Linked DNA regions of Homo sapiens: regions 2 and 3 are each linked to region 1. The links come from fine-mapping of genetic effects on gene expression. A gene starts in region 1. Each other region holds a variant in brackets. All regions are shown on one strand. Distances are from middle to middle.

Evidence for each region. PIP is the estimated chance that this variant, and not a neighbour inherited with it, causes the effect.
Region 2: its variant is fine-mapped to the expression of MED15 in blood mononuclear cells (TOPMed, PIP above 0.99). The same link has a PIP of 0.9 or more in thyroid.
Region 3: its variant is fine-mapped to the expression of MED15 in whole blood (TOPMed, PIP 0.98).

Annotation. Positions count from the first base shown.
Region 1 is chr22:20,502,767-20,510,343 of GRCh38, reverse strand. It overlaps MED15 (mediator complex subunit 15), which reads right to left and starts at 2,734. Exons shown (of 18, transcript NM_001003891.3): 1 at 2,598-2,734. The coding sequence starts at 2,665. RefSeq lists enhancers at 2,642-2,751, 4,631-5,130.
Region 2 is chr22:20,531,863-20,536,862 of GRCh38, reverse strand. All of the region lies in intron 1 of MED15 (mediator complex subunit 15), which reads right to left. Among named protein-coding and RNA genes, the nearest start is that of MED15, 27 kb to the right of the region's middle. The variant A/G (reference allele first, on the strand shown) is at 2,046.
Region 3 is chr22:20,453,350-20,460,926 of GRCh38, reverse strand. KLHL22 (kelch like family member 22) reads left to right here. Exons shown (of 7, transcript NM_032775.4): 5 at 2,927-3,119. Among named protein-coding and RNA genes, the nearest start is that of SCARF2, 19 kb to the right of the region's middle. RefSeq lists a silencer at 999-1,197 and enhancers at 4,162-4,663, 5,412-5,581. The variant A/T (reference allele first, on the strand shown) is at 4,109.

The sequences.
Region 1 (7,577 bases):
TGCGATCTCGGCTCACTGCAACCTCCGCCTCCCGGGTTCAAGCAATTCTCCTGCCTCAGACTCTTGAGTAGCTGGGACTACAGGTGTGCGCCATCACACCCAGCTAATTTTTGGATTTTTAGTAGAGATAGGGTTTCACCGTGTTGGCCAGGATGGGTCTCAGTCTCTTGACCTCGTGATCCGCCTGCCTCAGTCTCCCAAAGTGCTGGGATTACAGGCGTGAGCCACCACACCTGGCTAAAGGTGTGTTGTTTTAAGATGCTAAACTTGTGGTAATTTGTTAGAGCGGCAACAGAAAAACACACAAACAGCAATATCGAAAAAAATAAAGAACTCAATTCTCCCGGAAGCAAAATAAAGCTGAGTTATGAAGTATCCAGTCACTCAACACCCATAAACTCTTCAATCACCCTCCCAGCCCTCTTAACACTTCCCCTACCCCCATTTTCTTTGATGACAACTCACCCTTCCAGTTCTTAATTCTGGGCTTTCCCAGAGAAGAACCCTTGCCCTGGGGACTTTTCTTGCAGGAACCCTGAAGTGGGATATCTCTCAAGTTTTCACCTACAGATAACTATATTTTATCAGTAAAACACTGTTCACTGATTGTGCAATATCCCCAGAAATATCCCAAGGCTATTCTTCCCAAAGCCCATAGCTACTAACTCTACAGTCCCTACTCTTTCCACTGTACTGAAAGGTTTCCCAGCATTCAGCCCGGCTTCCTTCCTTCCACAATGCTTCACCCCACACCCCACCCCCCTCCATCCAGTTAGTCATCAAGAATTGTCTACGTTCCCCCTCCTCTGGAATCTGTCTTCCTCTTTCAGTTTCTACCACTGTCTAATGCAGGCCTTTATAATCTCCCGCCCGACTAGGTCATGCCACAATCATTTTACGGAGCAATGTGGCAGGCAGTGAGCTAGCAGTGAGAATATAAGGATGAAAAAGGACAGGTTCCCTACTCCCTCCAAATGTTCAAACTCTCTTAATAGCTTAACTGGTCTCTCTTCTCTGCCCTGCATCCATCTCCAGGGACAGGGACTCTAGGCATATTCCCAACACTGGCATTTCACTACTCCAAAGAATGCCACATGCCAAACACAGGCTCAATTCCTTGGCACAACACCCCCACTAAAGTGCTAGTACCTGCTCACCCTCATTCCATCATCTCCTGGGCTCTCTTACTCCTCGAGCCCCAGAACTCTCAGCCTACAAGATCCTCCCTCCACGCAGTAAATGCTCATGTTTCCTAACTCCTCAGCTTGGAATGGTGGCTATTCACACTCCTACTTGTCTTTCTAGGACTCAATTTATTCGTCACCTACTCACTAGACTGCCCCTGGTCTGCTCAAGTTAACCGCCGCTTCGCAAGAAACCCCTGCAGTATACACATTACAGACTGACAAGACTGCGCTGTGACGGTTCCTTTACCATCCCTCAGGAAAGGGGCTGTGTCTCAGGCAAATCTGTGGCGAGCACAACACGCCAATAAGCTCAGTTAAAAACTGTCAGGCCTCTGAGCCCAGGCCAGGCCATCGCATCCCCTGTGACTTGCACGTATACATCCAGATGGCCTGAAGTAACTGAAGATCCACAAAAGAAGTAAAAACAGCCGTAACTGATGACATTCCACCATTGTGATTTGTTCCTGCCCCACCCTAACTGATCAATGTACTTTGTAATCTCCCCCACCCTTAAGAAGGTTCTTTGTAATTCTCCCCACCCTTGAGAATGTACTTTGTGAGATCCATCCCTGCCCACCAGAGAACAATTGACTAATTTTCCATTACCTTCCCAAATCCTATAAAACGACCCCACCCCTATCTCCCTTCGCTGACTCTCTTTTCGGACTCAGCCCACCTGCACCCAGGTGAAATAAACAGCTTTATTGCTCACACAAAGCCTGTTTGGTGGTCTCTTCACACGGACGCGCATGAAAAAAACTGCTAACAGAAACAAGCAGTCGGTGGTGAGGGGCTAGAGTTCCTCTGAGCGGGGCCACTGACCCCAGCTCTTCACGCTCTCCTCCAGAAACGACGATCGCTTCCTGACAGCGGCTTCCTGCCATCCTTCGGCAAAGTCCACATTCCTTCGGGGGGTCACCCTCAGATCCTCCGTCCCACCGCCCACACCCCAAACAACTACCTTCCCAATCTCATCTTACATCCACCCTCCTCCCATCACTTTCTTTCACCGTTGATGCGCTTTTCTGGAAGAGAAACCATGAAGCACCCAGCCCTGCTAAACCCACTACAGCCGGCTGCTTCTCTCCCTTTCCCTATTCAGTGTGGTTCAAAAAGCGGGGGAAAGTCTGCACCCAAAGCACACAAATGACGAATGAGAAAGCTCAAGACGATGATTCATAAGCCAGGGCTCGTTGGTTTGCAGAGCTCGGCCCCAGGAAAGCAAACGAGCAGTCCATGTCGGGAACGGAGGGGACAGACGGGGGGGCCCGAGCCCTGGGACCCACGCAAGTCCCCGGCGCCTTCTGTCTCCCGGCGCCGTAGGTTTCTCACGGGTCCGGCCCTGGCCTCGCCCGCCACGCTAAGGAGGAAGGTCCCACAATCCAGCCCCCTGCCCCGACCACTACTCACATTTGACTGACCAGCTTCTGCCGGAAGGCGGTGCTCCGCCAGTCGGTCTCTTGCCCGGAAACGTCCATGCCTGTTCCCCAGCTCCCGCCGCCCGTATCCCGCTTGGCCGCCACCGCCGCCGCCTCAGTCACAGAGCCAGGCCCAAACCCGGAAGCCGTCCGCAGTGCCTCGGCCGAGCCGGAAGTGAAGGAGGGCTTGTGGGAAATGGAGTCTCGCGCACAGGCTTGTGGGAAATGAAGTTCCCCGCCGGGGACGAAGCGGTCTCGGTTCCGCCCGGCTGGGAGACACACGCCCCTCTTCCAGTGCAGCTGTCGGACACGGCAGGTGCTCCCGCAGCAGACCTGCGCCTGACCGCCTGCATTTTCTGCAACTCTTCAGTGTGCTGGCCTTATCTAGTCCCTGAGATCCAGACCCCTCCGGGATGCCAGGCCAAGCTGCCAGCTATCTATAGTAATGCTAGGGAGAGAGTGTTTATTTATCAAATATGTGTGGGTACCTACTGTGTGCCAGTGCAACGTGATCTGGGATCTGCTTTCATGCAACTGCCTGCTAGCGCCGCATCCGAAGAGCGACCAGATGGACTCTCATCACCGCTTCACTCTTCGATTTTTTGAATCTCACATCTCACAATGGCTGTATTTGGGGGTTGGGAATGTGAGGCCCCTAAACCACGTTAATTAATTTTTAGACATGGGCTTTCCCTTTTGACCAGCAGCCACGTCCCCTTCATGGAGAACTCAGCCTAGCTAGTTGCTGGAGGCCAGATGTCAAACGAATTTGATAGGTGAAGGTGAGCGAGCTGAAGGTGGGATGAGGGGTTATGGGGGCCTGAGAATGCTTTTAGGAATGTAAAAGTTCTGCCTCCTTGGAACTATGGGGCCTTTATCTGCTACCCTGGGGAGGGAGGTGACGTGAGGAAAATCTGGAGCCCAAGTGGTCAATAAGCACCAGGTGGACACCAACCAACATGGGCCTCAGGAGACTGTGGACTGGCACCTACTGAAGCCTAAGTGCCAGGCCCCTGCTAGGCACTGTACACCCCTTACACCCCTTGTTACTGTGCCCCAGACAGGAGGTTGAAGGTGGTAGAGAGTGGGTGGGAGAGGAGTGAGCACTCTCCCCAAAGAGGCCTCTCTTGCCAACAGAGTTTCATGTCTTGTGTTGATGTGAGAGCTGTTCATGTTTTCAAACGTTTTCTGCTCTAATACTCCCAAAATCGTTATTGTTTTTTTTGAGGGGGGGGGGATAGAATTTAGCCCTTGTTGGCCAGGCTGGAGTGCAGTGGTGCCATCTCGGCTCACTGCAACCTCTGTCTCCCGGGTTCACGCAATTCTCCCACCTCAGCTTCCCCAGTAGCTGGGATTACAAGCGTACCCCACCATGCCTGGCTAATTTTTGTATTTTTAGTAGAGACAGGGTTTCACCACGTTGGCCAGGCTGGTCTCGAACTCCTGACCTCAGGTGATCCACCTACCTCGGCCTCCCAAAGTGCTGGGATTACAGGCATGAGCCACCGTGCCCGGTGGCAAAACTAATTTTTTTTTTTTGAGATGGAGTCTCGCCCTGTTGCCCAGACTGGAGTGCTGTGGTGACATCTCGGCTCACTGCAACCTCTGCCTCCCGGGTTCAAGTGATTCTCCTGCCTCAGCCTCCCAAGTAGCTGGGATTACAGGTGCCTGCTACGAAGCCCAGCTAATTTTTTGTATCCTTAGTAGAGACAGGGTTTCACCATCTTGGCCAGGCTGAAAACTAATTTTTAAAAACTCTATCTAGAGTGATCATCTTGACCGGGGTTGCCCAGGACATCCAAGGTTTTAGTGTTTTTTTCCTTGTTTTATTTTGTTGTTGTTGTTTGTTTGTTTGTTTTTTGAGATGGAGTCTTGCTCTGTTGCCCAGGCTGGAGTGCAGTGGCACAATCTTGGCTCACTGCAAGCTCCGCCTCCCGGGTTCACGCCATTCTCCTGCCTCAGCCTCCCAAGTAGCTGGGACTACAGGCGCCCGCCACCACGCCCAGCTAATTTTTTTGTATTTTTAGTAGAGACAGGGTTTCACCGTGTTAGCCAGGATGGTCTCGATCTCCTGACCTCATGATCCGCCTGCCTCGGCCTCCCAAATTGCTGGGATTACAGGCGTGAGCCACCGCGCCCGGCCCTTGGTTTTTTTTTTTTTTTTTTTTTTTTTTTTTTTGAGACAGAGTCTCACTCTGTCGCCCAAGCTGGAGTGCAGTGGCGCAATCTCAGCTCACTGCATCCTCCGCCTCTCAGGTTCAAGTGATTCTCCTGCCTCAGCCTCCTGAGTAGCTGGGACTACAAGCACCTGGCACCACATCTGGCTAATTTTTGTATTTTTGGTGGAGACAGGGTTTCACCATGTTGGCCAGGATGTTCTCAATCTCCTGACCTGGCGATCCACCCGCCTTGGCCTCCCAAAGTGTTGGGATTACAGGCGTGAGCCACCACGCCCAGCCTTGTTTTCTTTTTTTTTGAGACAGAGTCTCGCTAGGTCTGCCAGGCTTGAGTGCAGTGGCGTGATCGCTTACTGCAGTCCCCGCCATCCGGGGTTCAAGTGATTCTCGTGCCTCAGCCTCCCCAGTAGCTGGGACTACAGTGCGCCACCACGCCCGACTCATTTTTGTATTTTATTTTATTTTATTTTTAGTAAAGATGGGGTTTCACCATGTTGCCCAGGCTGGTCTTGAACTCCTGACAGGTGATCCGCCTGCCTCGGCCTCCCAAAGTGCTGGGATTACAGGTGTGAGCCACCGTGCCCAGCCCCAGGTTTAAGTTTTGAAAGTCCTGTGTTCTGGCTGGGCATGGTGGCTCACGCCTATAATCCCAGCACTTTGGGAAGCTGAGGCAGGTGGATCACCTGAGGTCAGGAGTTCGAGACCAGCTTGGCCAACATAGTGAAACCCCGTCTCTACTAAAAATACAAAAGTAGCCAGGCATGGTGGTGTGTGCCTGTAATCCCAGCTACTCAGGAGGCTGAGGCACGAGAATCACTTGAACCCAGGAGGTGGAGGTTGCAGTGAGCTGAGATTATGCCATTGCACTGCAGCCTGGGCAACAAGAGCGAAACTCTGTCTCAAACAAACAAACAAACAAACATGTTAATAGGATACTTAGGACAACCCTCCCCCTTCTGCACTATGGTTGATGGAGACACAGACACATAATTCACAGACACAGACAGAGAGAGGCCTGGAACTTTGCCAGGAGTTTATCATCACAGTAAAATTGAGTGACTATTCCCTTTGGTATTTTCCCCAGAGCTCTTTTTCTACTTGTCCCCGCATTGGGTTGGTGCCCAGGGCAGTGATCCCTGGTGACAGTCTGGATGGGTGACCTGGAAAGGTGGACCAAGGAAAGTAAGGGGCCACAGGAAGGTTGATCCTGAAGTGGACTTGCCCTCTCTTGACACTGTAGACCCTCCTGGGATCCCCAGTCTGGATGTTAGTGGTTTAGATGTCTGAGAATAAGTGATGGAGGAAGCCGAGGGTATGCAGAGGCCAGACCTGCATCCCACACTATGTTCTGGGGATCCTCATCTCGGGGGAGATCCTCACTGCTCATGTGGCCATGTCTCTAGCCTGCGGGTTCCTGCAGGCTACCATGCCAAGGCTGGTTCCACTCAATGGCCACATATTTCCTGGACACCATTCTGGGCTCTGCAGGAGGTAGGAGCTGGAAGCTTCCCAGGCAGATCAAGCTTCCCCCTAGAGAGCTCAGCACAAGCTCTGTGAGCCTGTGGCTGTCTCCATACAGCCTCACCTCCAATCTTCCTCCTTGCTTTGGCACTCAGTCCCTGGGAGGTGGTGACCTGCCCCACCTTCCATCCTAGCACCAGCCAGATGTAACTCCTCTGTGTGTTTGGCCTGGAGCCTGTAATCACTTATGTATGTGGAGGTAGGGAGGGAGTGGTTATTGTTTCTTTTTTTTTTTTTTTTGAGATGGAGTCTCACTCTGTTGCCCAGGCTGGAGTGCAGTGGTGCAATCTTGGCTCATTGCAACCTCCAGCTCCTGGGTTCAAGCAATTCTGCCTCAGCCTCCCAGGTAACTGGGATTACAGGCGCACGCCACCATACTTGGCTAATTTTTTGTATTTTTAGTAGAGATGGGGTTTCACCATGTTGGCTAGGCTGGTCTCGAACTCCTGACCTCAAATATCCACCTGCCTCAGTCTCCCAAAGTGCTGGATTACAGGCATGGGCCACCGCGCCAAGCCATGCAATTCATTTTTTTTTTGAGACAAAGTCTCACTCTGTTGCCTGGGCTGGAGTGCAGCAGCACGATCTTGGCTCATTGCAACCTCCGCCTCCCAGGTTGAAGCAATTCTCCTGCCTCAGACTCCCAAGTAGCTGGGATTACAGGCTTGTACCACCGTGCCCAATTTTTTTTTTTTTTTTTGAGATGGAGTCTCGCACTGTCTCCCAGGCTGGAGTGCAGTGGCACGATCTCGGCTCACTGCAACCTCCACCTCCCAGGTTCAAGCGATTCTCCTGCCCCAGCCTCCCAAGTAGCTGGGATTACAGGTAGGTCCCGCCACCACACCTGGCCTTACTTTTTATTTTTAGTAGAGACCAGGTTTCACCATATTGGCCAGGCTGGTCTTAAACTCCTGACCTCAGGTGATCCGCCCGCCTCGGCCTCCCAAACTGCTGGGACTACAGGGGTGAGCCCAGCCGCAATTCATTTTTATTGCACATTTTGCTCTTAGGTTGGATTGATAGTTTTATTATCTTTACCATTCAGTAGTGATAACATAAAACTTGTTTGACTAGTCCATCAATTTTCTTTTTTGAAACGGAGTCTTGCTTTGTTGCCCAGGCTGGAGTACAGTGGCGTGATCTCAGCTCACTGCAAGCTCCGCCTCCTGGGTTCACGCCATTCTCCTGCCTCAGCCTCCCAAGTAGCTGGGGACTACAGGCCCATGCTGCCACACCTGGCTAATTTTTTGTATTTTTAGTAGAGACAGGGTTTC
Region 2 (5,000 bases), 28 kb before region 1:
ATGAAGGGACGGGGCGGGGGAGGGGTTGCCCCTAGGGATGGCTCACAACCAGTTCAGGATCAAGGAAGTACGCATTAGACTACTGGGTGGCCAGCTGGCCTCTATTTCCTGCTCTCTGAGTGGCCTGCGTTCCCCATGAACTCTGCCAGATGGTAGCACCCTGGTTCTAGACTCGATTACTCCTATAAAATGAAGGGGCCACATGAAGTCATCTCTCAGTCCCTCCCAAGGCAAGGGTCTGTCCCTATGTGGGACAATGCAGGTCCTATATGTGGGATCAAAGAGACAAGCTCCAACTTCACTTCTAGCTAGAGACAAGAAGAGAAAGACCACATAAATGTGAAAAATATCTTTAAAAACCCATTTACCAACAATTTTGTACTAAGAGATAGAATCCTATGAAGAGTTTTTCATCACACTGCTGCTCCACGGGGATAAAGAGCCATGTACATCAGTTAAGGTGGAGACCCCTCGAATGCAGCACATGCTGCCCCACCCACCCCCACCCCCACCTCCCACACTCACACACAGAAAGACAAAAACAAGTGTGAATCTGTTAGAAAGGCCTGGCCTGTGGCTCCCAGGGGTGGACTGCTCTGGTGTGCTCACTGCCTGCCTTCTTGCCAGTGGGATGGGTCTCTTCCTTGCCTGGCCTCCCACCCTGGGCTTGCTGATAAAGAAACAAGTGGCCAGGTGCAGTGCCACACGCCTGTAATCCCAACACTTTGGGAGGCCGAGGCGGGTGGATCATCTGAGGTCAGGAGTTCAAGACCAACCTGACCAACATGGTGAAACCCTGTCTCTACTAAAAATACAAAATTAGCAGGGTGTGGTTGCGCATGCCTGTAATCTCAGCTACAAAGGAGGCTGAGGCAGGAGAATCGCTTGAACCGGGAGGTGGAGGTTGCAGTGAGCCGAGATTGCGCCACTGCACTCCAGCCTGGGTGACAGAGCGAAACTCCATCTCAAAAAAAAAAAAAAAAAAAAAAAGAAAGAAAGAAGCAGGCTGAGCACGGTGGCTCACGCCTGTAGTCCCAGCACTTTGGGAGGCCAAGGCGGGCAGATCACGAGGTCAGGCGAGCACGACCATCCTGGCTAACACAGTGAAACCCTGTCTCTACTAAAAATACAAAAAATTAGCTGGGCATGGTGGCAGGCGCCTGTAGTCCCAGCTACTCGGGAGGCTGAGGCAGGAGAATGGCATGAACCCGGGAGGCGGAGCTGGCAGTGAGCGGAGATTGCGCCACTGCACTTCAGCCTGGGCAACAGTGCGAGACTCCGTCTCAAAAAAAAAAAAAAGAAAGAAAGCAAAAGAAAAAAGAAACAAGCAAACATGTCAGGGCTCTGGGGCCTTGCCTCTGAGTGAATTGAATAGGCCCAGTCCAGCTCGTGCTAGAAAGCATTCTGACCACTCCAAACAGCAACCAGCCAACCTCAGGAAACTGAAGGAATGTACAGACGGGGCTACAGCAATATGACTGTGATTCTTAAAGACATCACAGAAAGGAGGTTTAATGCTGAGAGGTGCATACATCTGTCTTAATGTAAAAAGAAAAACAAAATGACATTGACCTACCACCCTGCTAGATTCAAAAAGCACTCTTGGGCTGGGCACGATGGCTCAGGTCTGTAATCCCAGCACTTTGGGAGGCCGAGGCAGGTGGATCACCTGAGGTCAGGAGTTTGAGACCAGCCTGGCTAACGTGGTGAAACCCTGTCTCCACTAAAAATACAAAAATTAGTCGGGTGTGGTGGCAGGCACCTGTGGTCCCAGCTACTCGGGAGGCTGAGGCAGGAGAATCGCTTGAACCCTGGAGGCAGAGGTTGCAGTGAGCCAAGATGGCACTACTGCACTCCAGCCTGGGCGACAGAATGAGACTCCTGCACTCTTGGAGTTCCTACCTCCCTGTCTGCTTCCTGAAGCCTGAAGGGAGGCGAGGAGGCAGCAAGGGGTTTCTGCTCACAAGGCATCCAGGTGTGGAACAGACAAGTAAGAAAGGTCACCAGGGCCACAAAAGATGAGAGAGTTAACAATCCAGGAGGAT[A/G]ATGACAACCAACTCACGCGCGGCACTGGGTCAGAGTCCTGGGGAAGCGAGGCATGGGTGGGCTGGGAGGACCCTGTACTCATGCTCTCAGGTTAGCATGGGGCAGGGTCTCCACACCCAGAGGCTGAGACGATAGCTGCTAGGCCCCAAGAAGTCAGTGAGCATTTCTGATAGAAGTGGCTGCACAGGCCTGTTTTCTGAAGGTTGCCTCATCTGTGCCCCTCAAGGCAGGTATGCCCTTCAAAGGCATACTTGTTCTTCCCACCTTCCTTTTTTCTTTTTCTTCTTTTGTTTTTTGAGACAATGTCTCACTCTCTCACAGGTGCAGCGCAGTGGGGCAAACACAGCTCACTGCAGCTTCAAACTCCTGGGCTCAAGTATCCTCTCACCTCAGCCTCCCAAATAGCTGGGACTACAGGCATGCGCCACCACGCCTGGCTAATTTTTTTATTTTTTACTTTTTTTGTAGAGACAGGGTCTTGCTTTGTTGCCCAGGCTGGTCTCAAACTCCTGGCCTTAAGTGATCCTCCACCTTGGCCTCCCAAAGCACTGGGACCAATAGGGAGACTCAGGGAAGAGCAGTAGAAACAGCAGGGGAGCATTTGCAGGCCAAGCAGGACGGCCTGGAGGCTGGCTGTGTAAGGAGTGGGGAGGCTGTGGGTGGCAGATGTGGCCAGGAGTCAGAGAGGAAGAAGGGTGCAGAAGAGTCTGGGGAGTGACAACCAGTTACACAGATGGGCTCTGTGCCCACCAGCAGCGATCAGAGAGCAAAGCCAGGCTTTGATACAAAAGCAGTCCTTTTGAGCTGCTACTGGCCGTTTTTGAGAGTGTCAGCAGACTGGCAGGCCCCAGACAGACACTGTCTTGGTGCAGCAGAGACACCTGGCACAGTCAGAGAGACAAGATCTAGAAACACAGCTTAGTGCAATAGCTCTGAGGTGGTGGGATGACCAGGTTGAAGAAATATGCTTGGTGAGCTGAAGGCAAGGTGGCACCATACACCAGGGGATGTACTGGCAGACGGGCCCTGTCCTGTCCTGGGTAATGTCACAGATGACATGGACACTGTGGGCACCGTCAGCTACTCAGAGCCTGAGGAGCATGGACCAAGCTGGAGGCCAGAAACAGGCAAGTCTTGACAGGCCAACACCAGGAAACCGAGTTGGGGTAAATGTCCAGTTCCACATGAGCTTCGGAGGGTCAGAGTGGGGCCAAGGAGCAAGGTGCTCCTCCGGCAAGGCGCTCCTCCAGCAAGGCTACCGCTCAGAACAGCAGCACTGTGCCATGTCACTCCCACATCTCTCCCACAGCATCCACCCAGGGAGGCCCAGCAGGTTTGGTGGCCAGTAACAGACCCTGTGTGGTTTTGCAGTTCTGACAACTGTATTTTTGAAAATGTCTTTGCTCCTGTTTCTAGTTTGAAGATCAAGTGTCACAAAATAGAGACAAAGCGAAAAAGAACCCAGGAACTCTGCAGCTAATCCCCCACACTTCCCTGCAGATGCCTGCCCTTTCCTCTCCAGCTGGCCTGGCGCTTTTCAGAGGCATCCCCTGCCTGGACATTGACTCCAGGAGGGTACCCATTTCACACTCCTGCTGAGGTCAAGTCCCCTTCCTTCCTCCCTTAGACCTAACACACCCGCTGCGGGAGGCTGCAGGCAGGACCCAGGCCCACCTTCAGAACAGCACTGGCTGCTCCCAAAGCCCCCTTCTGATCTCCCTGAGCTGGGCTCTGCTGCCATCCCCAGCATGCCTTCCTGAGCAGCCAGACCCGAATGGCTACTCCTCAGTCTCTGTCTCCTGAAAACAAAACCCTTCGAGCCACTGTCACGAAATGAAAGGAAACTATCACACAAGGAGACAGCCCCCAACATGGAGTAAGGAGCACAGCCTGAGACAAAGAACAGAGAACCCACATGTCACAGTGAGCTCTTCCCCCACACAAGCAAGCCGGGAAGACGAGGGCCTGTCCAGCCAGAGGAGGACAAAGAGCAGACTGGTGTCAGCTCACAAGGGAAGACCCTTGATGGCTGTCCTGCCACAGTCCTGTCCAACATAAGCAACAGGTTCACAAACAGTACAGGCCTATGAGGCGGCCACCAAAGAACCCAAGGCTGCCTGGGTGGTGCTCGCTCTAGCTGAGGAAGGGGGCTGGGGGCCACTCCCTGGTTGCGACCAGCCAGACCTCTGAACACAAGGACTGTTACCGGCTCAGAGCACACAGTCCCTTGCTGTGAACTGGGCTCCAATGCTCTGCCTTTGGCCATGGTCTAGCTGGTTGCCATAGCTATGTCTGTGTACTCAGTCAGGGTTCAACTGGTATCTAGCTTAGACTGAAGCCTCCCAGGGGACCGATTCATCATTACAGGCCCTTGGAGCTCCCCCACTAAGGGGTCTGAGGATGTCCTTACTGTCCAGAACTGTTCCCAGAACACAGTGTGTCTTAATGGCATTGCCCGACCCTGCCTGAGCAGCCAGCAGGGATACATCAAGAAAAGCTCTTCGTGTCTTCATCTCCCAGCACCAAGTGCCCATCCCAGAAACTTGGGAACTCCCTTCACTTTCTGACTGCCACCTTTAATTCTCCAAAGTTCAAATCTTTGCCCCAACTCCCACTGCATCTGTGGCAATTCCTCCCAAAGGGCCTCTGTCTCCCGTTCCCATTCCTACCCCCACGCCCTCGCCAGCTCCCCAGGTCACATGACTGCCAGTGAGCAACTGCCACTGAGTGTGGGAAGCAACCCAGGCCCCTGCTTGCTTTGAGCCTCGCTCCTCACCAGCAGAGCAGGCAGCCTGTCCAGGAGCCCACTGAGGAGCCTGCTCCTGCGCCTGCCCCACACACTCTCCCCAGGGCCCCAGGGATGATGACCTACTACCTGGCACATTGCCTGACTATCCCATCAGGCCTGTTAGGGCCTCCCACCCTGCTTCCACCCAGGCACCCCTGCTGTCGGC
Region 3 (7,577 bases), 49 kb after region 1:
CTCCCACTACCATCACAATGGGGGTTAGGCCTTCAACATAGGGGTTTTGGGGGAATCCAAACATCTAGTCCATAGCAATAAGTAAAATTGTTTATATCTTTATATGCAAAAATAAAGCTTATTTTTATTAGAAAAATATTACTTGAGGACTTATTCTCATAAAGTAGAAAATTAATTCAATAAAGAAGAAGAGGGATACAGGACACAACAGGGAAATAAGAAATCAGTGTAACTTTGGCTATGTCTAAATTATTGACATATGGTATCACTGTTGGTGTCTTTTTTTTTTTTTTTTTTTTTTTTTTTTTTTTTTTTTGGGGGATGGAGTTTCACTCTGTCGCCCAGGCTGGAGTGCAATGGCATGATCTCAGCTCACTGCAACTTCTGCCTCCCGGGTTCAAGTGATTCTCCTGCCTCAGCCTCCCGAGTAGCTGGAACTACAGCCACACACCACCATGCCTGGCTAATTTTTTTATATTTTTAGTGGAGACGGGGTTTCACCATATTGGACAGTCTGGTCTTGAACTCCTGACCTCGTGATCCACCCGCCTCAGCCTCCCAAAGTTCTGGGATTACAGGCGTGAGCCACCACGCCCGGCCCTGTGTGTGTCTTTAAATTTGAAGCCACAAATCCACATGAACTCAGCTTAAAAAGCTGTGAGGACAATAGACTCGAAGGAGCAAACAGGAGCACATGGAGGGTCCTATCTCACTCTGGTTGCAGACACTTGGGGTGCAGATGGTGATTGAGCCAGACTGAACACAAGAGAGGAGAGACTTGTATATAAAGGAGGAAGGCGCACAGGAAAGGCAGTGAACAGCACCATCCCAGCCAGTTGACGGGGCCCCTGTGAGTGCTGTGCCCCAATCCTGGACTGCTGGTCCCCTGCCAGACCTTCTTCTGGCTTGTGCCCCAGGTCATGCAGGTCTCAGACCCTGCCTTCTCAGGAGGCCTTTCCTGATCACTGCAAGGGAGCTCTGCCCTCCCCAGGCCCCGCTGACCAGCAGGTCACTCATCTTCTTACCTCCCTTTCTTTCTTTCACAGTGTCTGTCATTATATTAAGCACTCATTTGCTCTGGTTAGCCTGTTTCCATTCTGCAGGGGAAGGCAGGGCCCTGACCTCTTGAGGCTCCCTCTGGATGTAGTGCTGAGCACTGTGCCCCATCCACAGTGGGAGACCTGGGAATGTTGGTAGAGTGAATGAATGATTCATTGCTGGTAATCTTACTCCTTTGTTTAATTCATTCAGCAGACAGAACATAATCTGTCCTGAGCCAGAGGCTACACTGAGGTCTAGGAATATAGAAATGAACCATGATCCATCAGAACCCCCAAGTTAACAAGGACACTTTTCATGCTCGTCTTTTATGATTCTTCTTGATAGCTTTTCTAGGCAGGTGATATCACCTCATTGGACAGGTGCAGAACTGAGCGAATCCCAAGAGATTAAAACTGATGCCCAGGCACACCCAGCTAGACAGGGAAGAGCCCAGGATTCACACCAGGTCAGGGAGACCCAGGTGTGTGTTCCCTCTCTTGTTGGCCCTGCCTTCTGAGGCTCCTGTTTGCTGCATTCCTGGTAGGCGGCGGGGAGGGGCTGGCCACACTGCAGGGGCTGCAGGAAGCAAAGGATGAAACTGATCTTTTCACTAACCAGCATAGGGCACAGGCCAAAGAAAACTTTGGTTACTCTCTTGTGAGCCAGTTGAAGTTAGACTTGTTCTCTTTGGAATAGGTCTTCCTCTGCAGAAATAAAAACACTTGTCTGAAAGAGGCTGTAACTATCTGTGGGCTGTTGGGCAAGGACACTTCAGATACTGGCTTTGAGCTCACTGGGTCCTGGCCCCTCATGGCTCTGTGATCATCTCTGCTCCACATTGCAGGCCATGCTCCCTGTTGGTGCTCAGCCCAGGAGCCCTCCTTGGGTCCTGGCCAGACTCCTCCACCCTCGTGGGCCTGCCGCAACCAGTCTAGTGCCTTTTCTCCCATGGGGGTCCCTGGAATCTCACACACCCTGCCCTTACAGAGCCTGCAGTCCAGGGTGGGAGTTAACCCTTTCCACTTTCCCAGAGAGGGAGACCTTGAGTGGAGGGGAGGTCAGGAAACGCGGGGCTGGCAGCATGGTGGGAGGAGGTGAAAGTACGATGACCAGAGCCTTGTGTGTGCGGCTGTTGACAAAGCTGAGGGTATGATGGGTGCTGTGTGCAGGGCGTGCCTGAGAAGACCACTCCTGATGGAGTGCTGGGGGAAGTTCAAGGCTTGGAGGCCAATGAGGGGGCTGATGGCACCCATCCAGTGGAGAGGCTGTATTTGGAGGCCCTCCTGAGTGGGAGCAAGGCTATGTGGATGATGAGATGAGGTAAGTGAGATGGAAGTGGCTGTACGAACAGCCATTGAGGCTGAGGCAGGAGGATTGCCTAAGTCCATATCCCAGGTGTCAAGACCTTGTCTCTATCAAAAAAAAAAAAAAAAAAAAAAATAGCGGGCGTTGTGGTGCGCACCTGTAGTCCCAGCTACTTAGGAGACTGAGGTGGTAGGATCACTTAAGCCCAGGAGGTCGAGGCTACAGTGAGCCATGATTGTGCCACTGCACTTCAGCCTAGGGGACAGAGAGACCTCTCTCCACAAAAAAAAAAAAAAAAAAAAAAAAAGAGCCATTGGACAGCCCAGGTGGACAGTTAGGTGGAAACACAGGAGGCTCCTGGCCATTCCTTCCATGCTGTGTGGTGGGGAGCACCTGTGCTCAGGTGTGTAACAGCCTGTGGGCCTGGCTGTAGATCGGTGTGCACTGGTATGTGGGGTAGTTGGGGAGGGTTCAGGCTGGGCTGAGGCAAAGCAGAAATGGGACCAGAACAAGAGGTGCAAGCCTGCGGAGCAGCCTCCCTGCCTAGTCAGTGCTGTGCTTTCCTCATGTCTCGGCACAGGTATGACCCACGGCACAACCGCTGGTTCCAGATCCAGTCCCTGCAGCAGGAGCACGCCGACCTGTCCGTGTGTGTTGTAGGCAGGTACATCTACGCTGTGGCGGGCCGTGACTACCACAATGACCTGAATGCTGTGGAGCGCTACGACCCTGCCACCAACTCCTGGGCATACGTGGCCCCACTCAAGAGGGAGGTAAGGAAGCCCTCGAAGAGGGGCCTTCTCCTGCCTAATTTCCTTCCCCAGGATGTGCAAAGAGTGAGAGGCCTAGGTGTCAAGGCCTGTCCCAGGTCAGAGAAACAGGCTCAGTGAGCAGAATCCATGCTTCTCCAGAGACCCTGCATTGAATGCATTGATGAGGCCCCATGAGGTTCAGCCAGTCCACCTGGGGAGGCTCATCAAGGATCCAGACCCCATTGCTCAGAATTGTGCCCCACTTGTGAGTCTTACATGCTGAGACCTTGTCACACCACCTTGGCCCTGGCAAGCTGCTTAAACCTTGTAGTTCAAATGTGGATAGAACATTTGCTCTTTGTGCAGCTGAGACGAGCTGGGACACTTCCAGAGATGTTAAACAGGAAGGGACCCTGAGAGCTCACTGGCCTATCCTCAGACCTCTTCCCTCTAGGTCCCCTGAAGGGTGGCGCCTTCCAGAGCCAAGAAACACTCTAAGGTTTTATTTTTTATATTAAATCCTATGTTTGAATATTGGGACAACTTGAAAAAAAAATCACGTGCATCCTATATAATACCTTGGTTTATTCCAATTTGAAGATGTTTAAAATTATGTTCATTATGGAAAAATGATGTTTTAGGGAGGTGCCTCTCTTTTATCTTACGACTTTGGGGTACTCAGGCCTGGTGTAACAACCAGACATGGGATCCCAGGGAAGGAACAGGCCTTGCTGGCCCCCTACTTCCTGGGTCTCAGCCTCCGAGAACAGGGCATACCCTAGCAGTACTAGGGGTACCCTAGCAGGGCACCCCGCTAGTACTGGCATAGCATTTGTGGAGCACCTGCTATGGGCCAGGTACACCTTTGGGGATAACCGAGCACCTGAGAGGCAGAGGATGGTATGGGGGGCAGGTTCTACCTGCACTGCCTCAGGGAGTTTAGCAAGAGCTCTGGCCTTTGTAAGCCTCTTTCCAGTATCTCTCATGACCCCCAATTCCCCCAGGGACTT[A/T]GACTTTGACTTCAGGGGTCAGGGCTAGTGTCTCCTCAATGGATCCAGCTCTTCTTTATCCAGGTCATTCACACAGCCCACACAGATTTCTGTCTCTTGGGCAGCTGTGAGCTGCAAGCTGTGGCCTGCTCCTTGCTCTCAGCTTCTTTGGGGAGAAGGAAGCCTCTTTGGAAGGACACTCCGTACCCCCATCCTGGGGAAAGGAGCAGATTTTGCATGGAGAAGATCAGGAGGTCCTTGAGACCAAGTGGACAAGGAGGGCTCTTGGGTTCTGTTCCAGGAAGGGTGTTGGGGGAAGCCTCCTAGGTGGGTGTTGTGGGAGGGGCTTAGCAGTTTCTTTGTCTGCGGCAGCTGGGGAAGCAGCAGTTCTCCAGCTTGGCCACAGAGGGGCAGCCTTGGCTTTCAACCAGCTGCATCGTGGCTGCCGGTGTTCCTTCATGCACGCATTCATTCCGCAACTACTAAGCACCATGTACCAAGTCCTGGGAATCCAGTGGTGACAAGAAATGAGAAAGACTCCCCACTCCATGGTGTTTACAGCCTTGTAGGAGAAACCACTCTTAACCAGAAAACAGATCAGTAAAGTGGTTACAATTATGGTAAGTGAAATGAAGAGGGGGCTGAACTGGAGGATTTCCAGGGAGGGGGCTCTGGTAGGATGAATCTAGAGGGACTTTTTGGGGAATGTCCATCTGAGGAGATGTCAATTAGACCTGCCATTTACAGAGGGAGGAAATGTTACTGGGAATGTGTCCTCGGTTCTTGTCTTCTTGGTTAAGACTTTAAGCAAGAGACATGCATTAACGAAGATAAGTGTAAGGCAGTTTATTGCAAAAGTGAAGGTACATTCTGAAGGCCGAGTCAGAGCAGGCTGCTCCAGAATAAGATCGCCCCAACTGGCATGGGAAACCTCCCTTACAGGAGGCTTACATGATTATTCATAAATGGGCGGGAAGAGGTGTTACTCATAAGCATGTTTTGTTTGGGTGGTCTTCTAGCAGCGCATGCACTGTGGCTCTACGTGCTAGTGTATTTATCGCATGTCTCATTAGCATCTTAAATCTTCACCCAGGAGGTGTGTTTTTTACCACTGCAGTGAACAAAAGGTTACTTTCGAAGCAAGCAAAACTGGGGCAAACTATACAACACAGGCTCCCGGGGGTGGAAAGTTCCTTGTGGGGTTAGTTCCTACTTGAGCTGGATAAGCTTAACTGAAAGAGGGGTTGGGACTTTTGAAACCCCAGGTGTGGTTAACATGTCTCAGAGGTCATAGTCCCTCTGGCCATGCTAGGGGCTGAGGCCAACCTGGAGTCCACTTCCCTGCTCATATCTAACCATCTGCCTAGTCTAGCAGAAGGACCTTCCAGGGCAGGAGAGGGGCTCACAGCTTTTCCTGAGCAGGAGAGGAAGCATGGGGCATGCTTGTAGAAGAAGGAAGCCCAAGGATCAAGAGCAGAGCAAGCGAGGCTGGCCCTGGGTCATTGCGTGGTCTGGGCTGAAGACAGCAGTAGCCTGTGCTGGCACACAGCTGTGGAGCTGGAGGGAGATGGGAGGGTTCAGAGTGTAGCGTGGAGGTAAACTGATCAGGCTTGCTGATGGATCAGATGTTGGGGAATGAAAAAGGATAGGTCATGTTGGCAGGGCGCGGTGGCTCACGTCTGTAATCCCAGCACTTTGGGAGGCCCAGGCGGGGGGGATCACCTGAGGTCAGGAGTTCAAGACCAGCCTGGCCAACATGGTAAAACCCCATCTCTACTAAAAATACAAAAATTAGCTGAGCATGGTGGCAGGCGCCTATAGTCCCAGCTACTCAGGAGGCTGAGGCAGGAGAATGGCGTGAACCCGGGAGGCAGAGGTTGTAGTGAGCTGAGATCACACCACTGCATTCCAGCCTGGGCAACAGAGCAAGACTCTGCCAAGACTCCGTCTCAAAACAAACAAACAAAAAACCTCACAGGATTGGTACACTGAATATTACAAAAAGCCGATGAAAGAAATAAAAGAAGATGTGAATAGATGGAGAGACATACCAAGTCCATGGATTGGAAGAGTAAGAATAGTAAGAATGTCAGTTCTTTCCCAACCCAATTAATAATACATATATTAATACAGAATTCCTCATATTGATATAGTATTAATACAGGAATACTAGTATTCCTATCAAAATTTCAGGAAGGTTTTTTGTACTATTAAGGGAAAATGAAAATTGAAGCTGAGGTTTGGATATACCCCTAGGCCAACTGCCTGTAGCCATGTAACTGAAACTTAAGCTTTCCTCCCTCAGTGTGATAGCTTTACAAAGAAAGCTTATGCAGCTCCACATGCACAGTAGGGAACAATATTCTTCCTCATTCATGCTTTATAAACTGTGTTGTAACTGCTGTGAATTGGGGCTTCATACCACTTCCAGTTTGGGGTTTCCTGGTTCATGAACTCTTCTTTTACATGCACAATAAGCTTTTTAAAAATTTTTTTATTTTTATTTTTTTTGAGACAGAGTCTCGCTCTGTCACCCAGGCTGGAGTGCAGTGGCATGACCCCGGCTCACTGCAACCTCTGCCTCCCTGGTTCAAGTGATCCTCCTGCCTCAGCCTCCCAAGTAGCTGGGATTACAGGTGAGCACCACCATGCCCAGCTAATATTTATATTTTTAGTATCATGAAGGTTTCACCATATTGCCCAGGCTGTTCTTGAACCCCTGGTCTCAAGGGATCTGTCTGCCTCGGCCAAAGTGCAGGGATTAGAGAAGTGAGCCATCACATCCAGCCTAAAATTTTTTTTTATTGCTGGTCGCAGTGGCTCACGTCTGTAATCCCAGCACTTTGGGAGGCCGAGGATGGTGTATCGCTTGAGGTCAGGAGTTCAAGACCAGCCTGGCCAACATGGTGAAACCCCATCTCTACTAAAAATACAAATATTAGCTGGGTGTGGTGGCACACACCTGTAATCCCAGCTACTGGGGAGGCTGAGGCACAAGAATGGATTGAACCCAGGAGGCAGAGGTTGCAATGAGCCGAGATTGCGCCACTGCACTCCAGCCTGGGCGACAGAGTGAGACTGTCTCAAAAAATAATAATAAAATAAATTTCAAAATAAATAAAATAAATTTTTTAATTTTGATTTGATTTTACTTGTGACATTAGATGTAAATGAGATTATTCTGAAATGTATATATAAAGGCAAAGGAACTAGAATAGCTCAAATAATTTTGAAAAAGAACGATAAGATGGGAGGAGTCTGCCCAATTTCAAGATTACTACATAGCTACAGTAATCAAGGCTGTGGTATGGATACAGTGATAGACACATAGATCAGTGAAACAGAATGGAAAACCCACAGACCTGAGTAAATATGCCCAGTCATGTTACACATGATTTTGGACAAAGGTGCAGAAACAATTGAGTGGAGGAAAGATATCTTTCAGCAAATAGTACTGGAGCAATTAGACATGCGTCGGCAAAAAAATGGA